Regions from separate parts of the Homo sapiens genome. Here regions 1, 3 and 4 are each linked to region 2. The links come from fine-mapping of genetic effects on gene expression. A gene starts in region 2. Each other region holds a variant in brackets. All regions are shown on one strand. Distances are between the middles of the regions.

Region 1 (2,687 bases), 28 kb after region 2:
TTTGGCTTTTGAGTTTCTTTACCAAAGGTATCTTTCTAAGGGTCTCAATCAAAATTATGACTTAATCATGGGTGCACGAGTTATCTCCAAAGAGGTGGCAAACAATTTTTACACGATCCAGAATCACCCTAGAGATAGCTCAGAGAAAGGAAAACACAGGACGAGAAATCGGAAACTGTCCATGGAAGGAAAAAGGATCAATAAATGGCAATTCCCTGGCTGGGTATTGAACCCACGCAGCATTAGTCAAATGGGAGAGACTTAGCTACTGTACTACGGCATGGGGTGGTGCATTAGCCTGTATTTGCATTGCTATAAAGAAATACCTGAGGCTGGGTAATTTATAAAGAAAAGAGGTTTGATTGGCTCATGGCTCTGCGGGCTTTAAAGGAAGCATGGTGCTGGCATCTACTTCCGGTGAGGCCTCAGGACACTTACAATGATGATAGAAGGTGATAGGGAGCCAGCATGTCACATGCCAAGAGTGAGTGAGAGAGAGAGAGAGAAAGAAGAGAGATCCTAGACTCTTTTAAACAACCAGAACTTGCATGAACTAAGAACTCACTTATCACCAAGGGAATGGTGTTCAACTCTTCATGGGGGATCTGCTCCTATAATCCAATCACCCTCCCTCCGCCCAGGTCCCACCTCCAACTTTGAGAATCACATTCAGCGTGAGATTTGGAGAGGACAAACATCCAAACCACATCAGGTGCTCTCCACTGATCTTCCCGGAGGGAATGTAGAGCAGGCAGTTTTGAACTTGCAAAAGATTTTAACTTTCAGGTCAAAACTTTTTTTTTTCACTCTTTTTAATTTTATCAAGAGAATTTCTAAGGCTAGCCATGATACTAGCCTATGTCCTTTTAAAATTTTTGATTTTCCCATTAATTATTTAGAATAAGAAATGTATAAAATCTTTTTTATTTTCAGTGGTGTACTTAGTTCCAATAGTAACTCAATGCAAAAGCCTCTTGAAAGCCCAGGTGGTAACTTTCCAGGTTTTTTTCTACATAAGCAAGAGGTATTCCTGGGGAGGGCGTCGAGGAAGCAATCCCCATGATCATTAAAAACTTACTCTCAGAAATAGACTTAAAGTAACAAAAGACAATGTGAAAGGAGAATAAATACTTGGGGCCCTAATTCATTATGCCAAAAGAAAAAAATTATCCTGAAAGCTGAGTCATGTAAGATGTTGCCTTGCCTTTTGTTCCTAAGCAGATAGCTGCAGATAAAAGGTTAATCATCTCCTCAG[G/A]CAGCTACTCTATGTTCACCTTATCTTATGTAAAGTGCTGATTTACTGATCATGAGATAAATACATAATTGTATACATAAATTGAATGCATAAATTCCCCTGCCTGCTGCTTTTCTCTTGCAACATGTGGATTACCATACCCTCCCTCTTTCCCCTCCAGCCCACTTTTCCCCTTTAAAAACTGAAGCCCTCAAAATCACAGCTAGAGAAAGGCACAGACCACAGACTGTTTCTGTGATTCCATGTTTATTTCTTCCAAGGATGTCCTTAACCTTGGCAAAATAAACTTCTAAATTGATTGAGACCTGTCTCAGATACTTTTTGGTTTACACAACAGAAGCCCCATAGAGACGGGACCTTTTAAGACAAAACTCCCCTAAGAGCTTGACACCCTTGAGATGAAGAGTGTGCTGCTTAAAATATTACATCTTGGACTCCCTGTCCTTTCAGACTGGTCCCCTGATATGAACCCAAAAATTCATGCCCTCTTCCTGGACACAGTGTAATGCCTGTAATCCCAGCACTTTGGGAGGCTGAGGCAGGATCCAGTCACCTCCCATCAGGCCCCACCTCCAACATTGAGCCCAGGAGTTCGAGACCAGCCTGGGCAACATAATGAGATACCATCTCTACACAAAATCAAAAAAAATTAGCCAGGCATTGTGGCACGTGCCCATAATCCAAATTACTTGGGGAGCTGAGGTGGAAGGATCACTTGAGCCGATGAGGTCAAAGCTTTGGTGAGTCATGATCACACCACTGCACTCCAGCCTGGATGACAGAATGAGATCTTGTGTCAAAAATAAAAGTTAAAATTTAAAAAAAAATCATGCAGTCCGGATGGCAGAGACCAAGAGAGGGTACCCCCATCTAGTCACAAGATCAAGCTCTCAAGGCCATAAAACAAGATGAGAGGGGACTCTCATCTGATTTTTATTTCTGGGACCTACAGCAAAGTTTGTCTTTACAGATGACAACATAGAACTGTGAAAACTGATGAGTCTGCAGGCTCTTGAACAGTGGGTTTAAAGGGGTTCTAGGCTCATGTTCTCCCCTACGGTACCCCTCTTTATGACGGAACAACCCAGAAAGAAAAAGACAAAGGAAAAGAGCAACAAAAAAAGCTATTTCTGCGAGGGAAGTGGGTCAAACAGTATGAATATTCATACCACATGTACACCAGAGTCACTACAACCCAAGGCTTGTCACACAAATTCTTTTTTCCCATTGATCAAAACCATGTAGAGGAGACAACCAGTGATTTTTACCATCTCATCGGCTGGAGTGCACAGAGGGAGAGAGGCCCCCTGGCTGGTAAGAAATTCTTACCCCTTTGCTTCCGGGTTCCGGGTAAAGGAATCCTTTGCCCAGGTTCCTGGTTTCTCTTCAATGCAGCTTCCAGGACAGAAGCATAGCTTTGACCATCCTGCTC
Region 2 (2,687 bases):
CCTAACGTAGAGGAGCCCTTTCAACACACACACACACACACACACACACACACACACACACACACACGTGTACTTTTTAAAATATAAATATGAAAGAAGAGGAAGGGAGGGAGAGAGGGAGAGAGAATACGAGACAGATGAAAAGGAAATGCTACTTAATCTTGTCCAGTTTTTGAAAACCTCAAAAAAAAATCAATAGCAAACTAGGCGGAGGCATGTTATTCTCAAAACACACACTCCCTCTCCCGCATTACAGTACTGTTAACAACAGCAAATGATATTACAGATGGAAAAAGCCTCAGGGAAAAAAGCATGAATTGTTAAAGGAATACAAAGTGGCATTACTCTCATGAGAAATGTAAAGGGGCCAGCTGCCCGCCTTCATCTGCTCAGACATTAAAGTACACCTCGCCCAGGACCTCTTGATTCTGACCATGCCCTGCCCCAAACCCTGCCTTCCCGGGTCCCAGGACTCCAGCTGCTCCTCGCGTGACAACACTTGCCCGCTTTGAAAGCCCTCCTGCCCCGCCCGCCGGGTCCTCACCGTGTGGTACATGAGGGCCTCGCCGTCCCCGGGCTCTGACAGCTCGCTCAGCTTGCGGTCCCACTGCAGCACGCCCTGCTCCCCGCTCTCCAGCACCTCCATGGCGGTGCGGGCCGCGCTGGGCCGAGGATGCTAAGCGCAGGAGGGGACGCGCAGAGCTGCCTCGGACCGGCAAGGTTCCTCTCTCTCCGCGTGTGCTTGCGTGTGTGCGCGCGCGTGTCTGTAGTTTTGCACTTGGAAAGCAAACGTCTGCTCCTCTGCCGGAGAGAGGATGGCCAAGCGCTCCCGTCCGGTGTCCTCGGAGATCCGAGAATCCCCAGGGACACGAGCCGGACCAAAGGCTGCCGGGGCTAAAGCGGGATGTGCATCCAAAATGAAGGCAGAAGACCCGCTCTCATCCCAGGAAAATCCCTTAGCCGCAAGCCCACTTGCCGCTACGGCTCCAGACACAAACTTTGAGGGACCCCAGGGCTCCTCGGCTCTGCTCCAGGACCCAGCTGCGGCCCCACCTCCCTCCAAGGCTTGACCAATTGGATATCCGCCTTGCCTAGCAGACCCAATCAGAAGTCTCATTCTCGGCTTTGTCCCGCCCCCAAAGGCAGAGGCCGCGGGAAGTCTCCGCCCACGCCTTGGAATGTAGCCGGGGAGTGTCTGTGACGTCACCGAGGAACTCCTCCTGCTTGAGCGCGGCCCGCTGTCTGCTGTCGCCTACAGCTGACCAATAGAGGGCTTGGGTCCGGAAGTGATGGACTGGAGGCTTGACTAATGTGAAAGGGGCGTCTGAAAGGTACAGCCAATGAAATAGCGACAAGAATACATTTTGTAAAAGAGGGAGGGTGAGTTCAGTCCTCTTGCTGAGAATCCTCAGAAATTTACCAGCGCGCCGACAGGGGGCGCGAGAGTTGTTGCGCGGGGGGCTTAAACATTTTCGAGTACTTTAGTTCATTTGAATCTCTCGGAATTTTTTTAATGGATTACATATTATACAAAAATACAAATATTCCTCATGCACATACATTTATATTAGTGCAGCTCTAGGAAATTGTCATTGTTCTTCACCTTTTTCGCCCATTTTCTGTTGGGTTCTTCTATTTTTTATGGACTTCACTTATTGTATGTTTTTCTTTCATCTGCTTGATAAGAGTCAATGGCATGCTTTTCCAGGTCCTACAGAAGTGAGCCCAGTCCTTGAATTCATAGAGCTTTTATCTCAGAGGAGTCAGGCAATAAACAAAGAAATAAACATTTAAATTCAGAAAGTGGAAATTGCTATAAAGAAAAATAAAAGCAGGAAAACAGGATGCGTCAAGATCGATGCTATTTTACGTGCTGATCAGGGAAGTTCTTCCTAAAGGAAATGAGATTTCGGGGGAAGCTGGTATTCACGTGATTGCTGGGGAGGCCAGTGTGGCTGCAGCAGAGGTGCTTGGCAGGGAGGGGTGGGAAAGGCCAGAAAGGTGAGCCAGGGCCAGAGCACCAGGCCTGCCTCCTAGAATAGGGAAGAGATGGCCTGTTCTAAAGGAATTCCCCCGAACACTGTGATTCTTCTTCCTCCTTTTTAATTCCAAAAATATAGTTTACCTATCTTAAATATAAAAGCAGGTCTTTGCCAGTTAGCTCTAGAAGTTTCTTACAATGGCACATTCAGGTATTAGCTATTGTGTTGTTTCCTTGGCAAGTATTTTTTGGCGGGTGGAGACAAATGTCTTTGAACTCTATGTTGTCTTTAAAGCAGCAGTTTATCATATAAACTATTGCATTTGTCTGGTCCTATCTTCTGGGGTCTTTTGAGATTTTTTTTTTTTTTTTTTTTTTTTTGAGACAGTCTCACTCAGTTACCCAGGCTAGAGTGCAGTGGCACGATCTCAGTTCACTGCAGCCTCCACCTCCTGGGCTCAAACAGTTCTCCTGCCTCAGCCTCCTGTGTAGCTTGGACCACAGATGTGCACCACCACACCCGGCTAATTTTTAAATTTTTTGTAGAGGCAAGATCTCACTTTGTTGCCTGGGCTGGCCTCAAACTCCTGGGCTCAAGCAATCCTCTCTCCTGAGTCTCTCAAAGTGCTGAGATTTAAGGCATGAGCCACCACGCCCAGCTTTTGAGATTATTTTAATGCTTAAATAGAAGCTCTAGTTTATGGGC
Region 3 (2,687 bases), 52 kb before region 2:
TAGACTGCAAGCTCCAAGAAGGTATATCAGATGCATTTTGTTGTCCTTGTTCTGTGACCTGCACAACATAATGAACAACTGGCCATTCAAATGAGTTTCAGTGATGATGATGAAAACCAGCAGGATCATCAGTTTTGTGACTATCCCAGGCTTAAGGATGGCTGTCTGTTACCAACTTACACCATAGGAGTCATCAGAAATATAAAGGACATTCACACAAGAATGGAACAAAGTTCCAAACATGTTTACATGAAGTTGTCCCTCTTCCTAGTTGAGAAATAAGTCTACACCTAACATCAGGGTACAGAGATCACTCGTCTCATGGCAATCTCAAAGGCCAAGTCAGCCCAAAGAAATATCATTTTCTCTTAGGCAAATGCCAGCTATCAAAGTGCAAACGGAAATAGCCACTTGGACCTGGAGTTCGGCATTCAAACTGCTGACCCCATTATCTCTGCCACAGTGAGGCTGATACGGACCCGTGATGGGCAATCCAGCAGTTGGGATTCACTTGCTAACTTCCCACAGACGTTTAAAAAAGAACATGTCAGAAACTGTGTCGTTGTAAGGTGTAAGCCAGATCTCAAAACACACTTTATAAAGGACTCACGTATTCTCATTTTAATTGCAAAATTATCAGGAGAGAGGGAATCTAGGTTTTGTTTCTCCAGTAATTCAAAGGCTTGGGGAGGATTTCCCTAGTTTCAAGATCCTTCTGTGCAAGTTACTTCCTTATATTTCGCTTTTCCCATGGATCAAATGGACACCAGTGTTGCACTAGCCTCTTCCCACACCCCTTTGACCTGGGTATGTTATATTCACCAAGTCTCTTCTATGACTTTATTCAACAGCTAACACAGACGTAAAGCTTGTCAACACCCCAATCAAGATTAGAAAAAAAATCTAAGGGATATTTCATGAATGTTTACTTTGGAACATTTGTGTTTCTCACACCAGGGAAAAATAACATGTTTTGGAAGAATAAAATTAAATAGTGACATTTGCTTAGACACTCATGGATGCAAAACCCAATCCGCACTGGTTATTTGATAATGGTGTTATTGAGAGTGATCAACTCCAGGCCGAGTTGCTGGGAAACAAAGGTCACTGTCAAGATGACTCACTGATTTTCTCTAAGGATCTATTGATAAGCTCCTTGTCAACGGAGGTACTGTCAGAAGTATAATAAGGGAAGTGGCTAAGTATATTATTTTATTTAATCTTCACAACAGACATATGAGTGGGGTCATAATTATCCCCATTAGACCAATGAGAAAATGCAAGCTCAGAGAGGCTTTACAACTTACCCAAAGTTGCACAGCTGAGGAAGGGGTAGAACTAGGAAATCAAAATCAGTTCCTCTGACTGCAAAAGCCACACTCTTTCCAATACACCATATGCTTCTTGATCTTCGATGGTGAAAATGTGGGTGGTTTTGTCATGGATTTGTGGGTCATATGAGGGGTACTGTGTTTTCCAATGGGATAGCTATTCTCACCAAACAGGCACTGGTCAAAGAAAGGATCAAGACTCACACCCTGGATTTCTCCAGAGGGCAAAACGTCTGATAGTCATTTCAGGTAAGGTCAGGTATGATTACCATCAGTCCACACTTGTCTTTTTCTGGGGAAACTGGACCACATCAAAGAAGCTCACAAATG[C/T]TAACGCCTCTCATAAATGTAAGGTGATATTATCACCACTGTTCCCTACTGAGACACAAAGGGCTGTTTCTCCTCTACCCCATGCTTCTGAGCTACTCCGTAGTAGTGCTTTTTTTCAGGATTTGGTTTGTTTGGGGTGGGGAGTGAGGAGGTATTACGAAGGCTCCACAAACACCAGAGTAGCAGTGTCTGTGTATGCATCCGAAGGTGAGCCATTTATGATTTAGTTTCAGAGTAAAACAAACAAACAAACAAAAGGACATATCAGAAACTGTGTCGTTGTAAGGTGTAAGCTAGATCTCAAAACACACTTTATAAAGGACTCACATATTCTCATTTAATTGCAATATTACAGGAGAAAGGGAACCTTTTCATTTCTCCACTCCAGTAATTCAAAGGCCTGGGGAGGCTTTCCCTAGTTTCAAGATCCCTAGTTTCATGGTACAGCCATGGTACAGTCTGAAGAATAATACACTGATCCTCACTATTCACAGATTCCATATTTCTGAATTGTGTCTAATTGATAAAATGTATTTGTAACCTCAAAAATCAATACTTGTGGCACTTTCATGGTCATTTGAGAATCCGCATAGAGTGGCAAAAAATTTGAGTCACTGACATGCACGTGCCCAGCTAAGGCTGAAAAAGGGCACACTCTGCCTTCTTGCTGTAGCTCTCAGGCTATTACGCAGGTTCCTTTTCATGGTCTATTTAGTGCCATGTTTTTCATATCTTTGTGCTTTTTGTTGGTGACGTTGCTGTCTAAAACACCTCCCAAGCACAGTGCTGAAGTGCTATCTAGTGTCCTAAGTACAAGACGGCTGTGATATGCCTCACAGAAAAAAATCCACGTGTTCGATAAGCTTTGTTCAGGTATGGGTGATAGCACTCTTGGCTGTAGCTCAATGTTAATAAACCAACAATATATTGATACATTAAGTATGGTGTCTTTAAACAGAAGCACACATAAAACAAGGTTATATACTGATTAGTGATAAAAATGTAATCAGACACCCGCAAGAACCT
Region 4 (2,687 bases), 120 kb before region 2:
GCCTCTTTAGAAAGTGGTGTTCACTCTTCTGTCGAGTTCTACAACTTTTAGTGTTTCATTCCCCTCCAGTTTGGCGCTGACCCTGTGAAGGCATTAAAAGGAAAACGAAGTATTAGTCACCAGCTGTTAGCTACAATTCTCATGCTTTGTAGCGTGATGCAATCATTCAGGGGTTGCAACTTGGTGAGACGGCCTGGGCATGTTTCTTGTCCTTTTCTCTCCTAGTAGCAATTCTCTGTTTCCAAAGTCCCCTGCTACCAGCCTCTCCACTAGTCCACATTCCTACCTTTATCTACACCCAAGGCATCCCAACCCTACTAAGGATAATCATGGTGGCTTGATATTGATCTGCTATGAGATGCATTAAATTATTCTATTTACTTAGGATGTTTAGCCCTATGCTAAACTCAGGGAAGGAGAAAATAAAATGATAAGAGCTGATCCTTGGCCTAGAAGAGCTAATAATCCAGATAAAGATTTTTAACAATGAGCTAATTTGAAATAATAATAAATCCATAACAGAAAATAAATACATTATTAAATTGTGTAACAACCTGGAAAATTTCTAGGCATTCAGAGGAGGGCTAGGAGGCTTTGTTATCTAGGAGACATCACAGAACAAATGGGATTTGAAGTGGGCCTTGAACAGCTTAGCTGAGAGAAGAGAAACTGTGTCCAGAGCCAAGTAAGAAGGCACTGGGTCTTCTAGAGATCCCAGCGGTGGCTACATTGGCAAGTCTCTCTATGACGGGAATAATAATGATGCCTTACCACATGGGATACTTAAAAGGATTTGTATGATACTGTTTCAGTAGCCCTCATCCGAAAATCTAAAATCTAAAATGCTCCAAAATCTAGAAATTTCCGAGCATTGACATGACGCTCAAAGGAAATGCTCACTGAAGCATTTTGCATTTTTGGATTAGGGATGCTTAACTGTTAAGTATAATGCAAATATTCCAAAATCTGAAATCTATAACACTTCTGGTCCCAGGCATTTCAGATAAGGGATAGTCAACCTGCCTCACATCTGTAAAGTGCTTAAAATAGTAAGTGCTAGTAAATGTTAAATATGTATGTATAATGTACACACATAAAAGTACTTCATTATAAACCTTCCCCTGCAGAATTAGGGGATGAAAGCTGAAGAATCTGAAACAAAATCTTTCCCATTTACATCGGAACGGCCTCATTTCTGGGAGGCATAGGAGCAGAGTTCAGCTAAATCACCAACCATGTCACACGTAACCAGGAGCATGCATGCAGGCCCAGGGACCTCCCCTATTACAACAACAATACCTTGCAGTCGCATAAGCCTTTATGTTTACAAAGGGATTTTTCCCAGAAACTGAGAAACAACTCATGTAGAATTGGAGCCAAATAGAGGTTGTTCTCAATATGGAAATGTGTGCACAGTGCCTCTTAAATGGTACCCCTCAACATACATCTATAAGTATAAAACTATAATATGTATAGTTTTAATTAACACATGTGTATTTACATATAAATCATAAACATATATTGACATATAGCACAATATATATCTACTCCCTAGTTGAAGCCATG[A/G]AACATGTCTTAAAGTTGGATTTGCACAGCAAACACACTGTGGTTACCTGGGCTGTGCATTCACTCGTGTGGCTTGGAAGGGAGGATGGAGACAGTGGGGGAAGGGATTCAAGCACTTCTTTGTGCCACCACGCCAGCTCCCCGCTGATGCAGCAGACATAGGGGAGCTCACGCTGGTTTTTTTCCTCATCTCTGCTCAGGGCAACTGTTGGCCAGCAACAGACTCTCTGCAGTCCCAGGTCCTGGAAATAGGTCCTGAGAGAGCTGAGGGACTGAACCAGGCCTATGGAGAGTCTCAACCTCACATCTCAGGTTGCTGACTCATAACCCACCATCAGTGCACTAGAGGAGTTGGCTCTGTGTCTCTATGACTCACAGGTGCTGCTGCAGCTCCAAAAGCACTGACTTCTCCAGGCTGGTCTCATTCGAGATAATGAAATGGGGAAGATCCACATCCGGCCTGGACTCCAGCCCTGACACCCTGAGCAGGGAGGAACCTCTATCCCAGCCCCCCAGCTCCCCAGCCGAGCCCGGGCTGGATGACTCCTCTGGGGGAGAATGTTCCTCGTAGATCAGCAGGTTTCTGGATCTCACTGAGGACAGAGCAGAATAATAAGGTGTTAGCAAAAGACCACAGGGGTCCAACACATTCCCTCACTCCAGGTGCTCAGGGCTGGTGGCAGATGACAATGTGTGTGTTCTCGTTGCCCAGAACCATGGGTGCCAACAGAATTTGGCTTTCTATAAAGACTTTAGAGCTTCGGAGTTTGTGCATTGAAAAATTATACCAATTATACAGTGCTGGAAGAACAATAGAAAAGCAAATAAACACAAGGCAAACTACCACCCCCACTGCTTTGAAAATATAAAACTCCCCCCTTACCACCCATAACCATCTAGGGAAAATGATTCATGGAGAATGGGAGTGGAATACTTGGAGATGTCCAGACCCAGCTAAAAGAAGCAGCATTCCCAGTGAGTAGGTCTGGCAGGGGGATGAGGTACAGGGCATCTCATTTAGAAAGGGAAGAGGAGACACAAAGCCAAAGCCATAAATCAAAGGATAGAGACAATCTCCTTTGTTTTGTAGGACAGTCACACAGCTAGATGGCTCTGTAGCA

Alleles and levels. Alleles are on the strand shown, and positions count from the first base shown. SD is a standard deviation of normalised expression in the study named. Not every link is listed here.
For the expression in unexposed skin of the gene that starts at base 1,027 in region 2, A is the high allele of the variant in region 1 and G is the other (small effect, 0.26 SD a copy in GTEx).

The links.
Region 1: its variant is fine-mapped to the expression of CREB3L2 in unexposed skin (GTEx, PIP above 0.99). The same link has a PIP of 0.9 or more in sun-exposed skin.
Region 3: its variant is fine-mapped to the expression of CREB3L2 in whole blood (TOPMed, PIP 0.97).
Region 4: its variant is fine-mapped to the expression of CREB3L2 in whole blood (TOPMed, PIP 0.96).

Annotation. Positions count from the first base shown.
Region 1 is chr7:138,028,903-138,031,589 of GRCh38, forward strand. No RefSeq gene overlaps it. Among named protein-coding and RNA genes, the nearest start is that of CREB3L2, 28 kb to the left of the region's middle. RefSeq lists an enhancer at 2,338-2,687. The variant G/A (reference allele first, on the strand shown) is at 1,256.
Region 2 is chr7:138,001,060-138,003,746 of GRCh38, forward strand. It overlaps CREB3L2 (cAMP responsive element binding protein 3 like 2), which reads right to left and starts at 1,027. Exons shown (of 12, transcript NM_194071.4): 1 at 545-1,027. The coding sequence starts at 646. It overlaps LOC124901752 (a long non-coding RNA gene), which reads left to right and starts at 1,248. Exons shown (of 3, transcript XR_007060551.1): 1 at 1,248-1,331. RefSeq lists enhancers at 52-650, 567-706, 651-1,248, 797-886, 977-1,046 and 1 more.
Region 3 is chr7:137,948,777-137,951,463 of GRCh38, forward strand. All of the region lies in intron 1 of CREB3L2 (cAMP responsive element binding protein 3 like 2), which reads right to left. Among named protein-coding and RNA genes, the nearest start is that of CREB3L2-AS1, 3.2 kb to the right of the region's middle. The variant C/T (reference allele first, on the strand shown) is at 1,662.
Region 4 is chr7:137,880,470-137,883,156 of GRCh38, forward strand. It overlaps CREB3L2 (cAMP responsive element binding protein 3 like 2), which reads right to left. Exons shown (of 12, transcript NM_194071.4): 11 at 1,943-2,159; 12 at 1-82. The coding sequence ends at 7. Among named protein-coding and RNA genes, the nearest start is that of DGKI, 35 kb to the left of the region's middle. The variant A/G (reference allele first, on the strand shown) is at 1,567.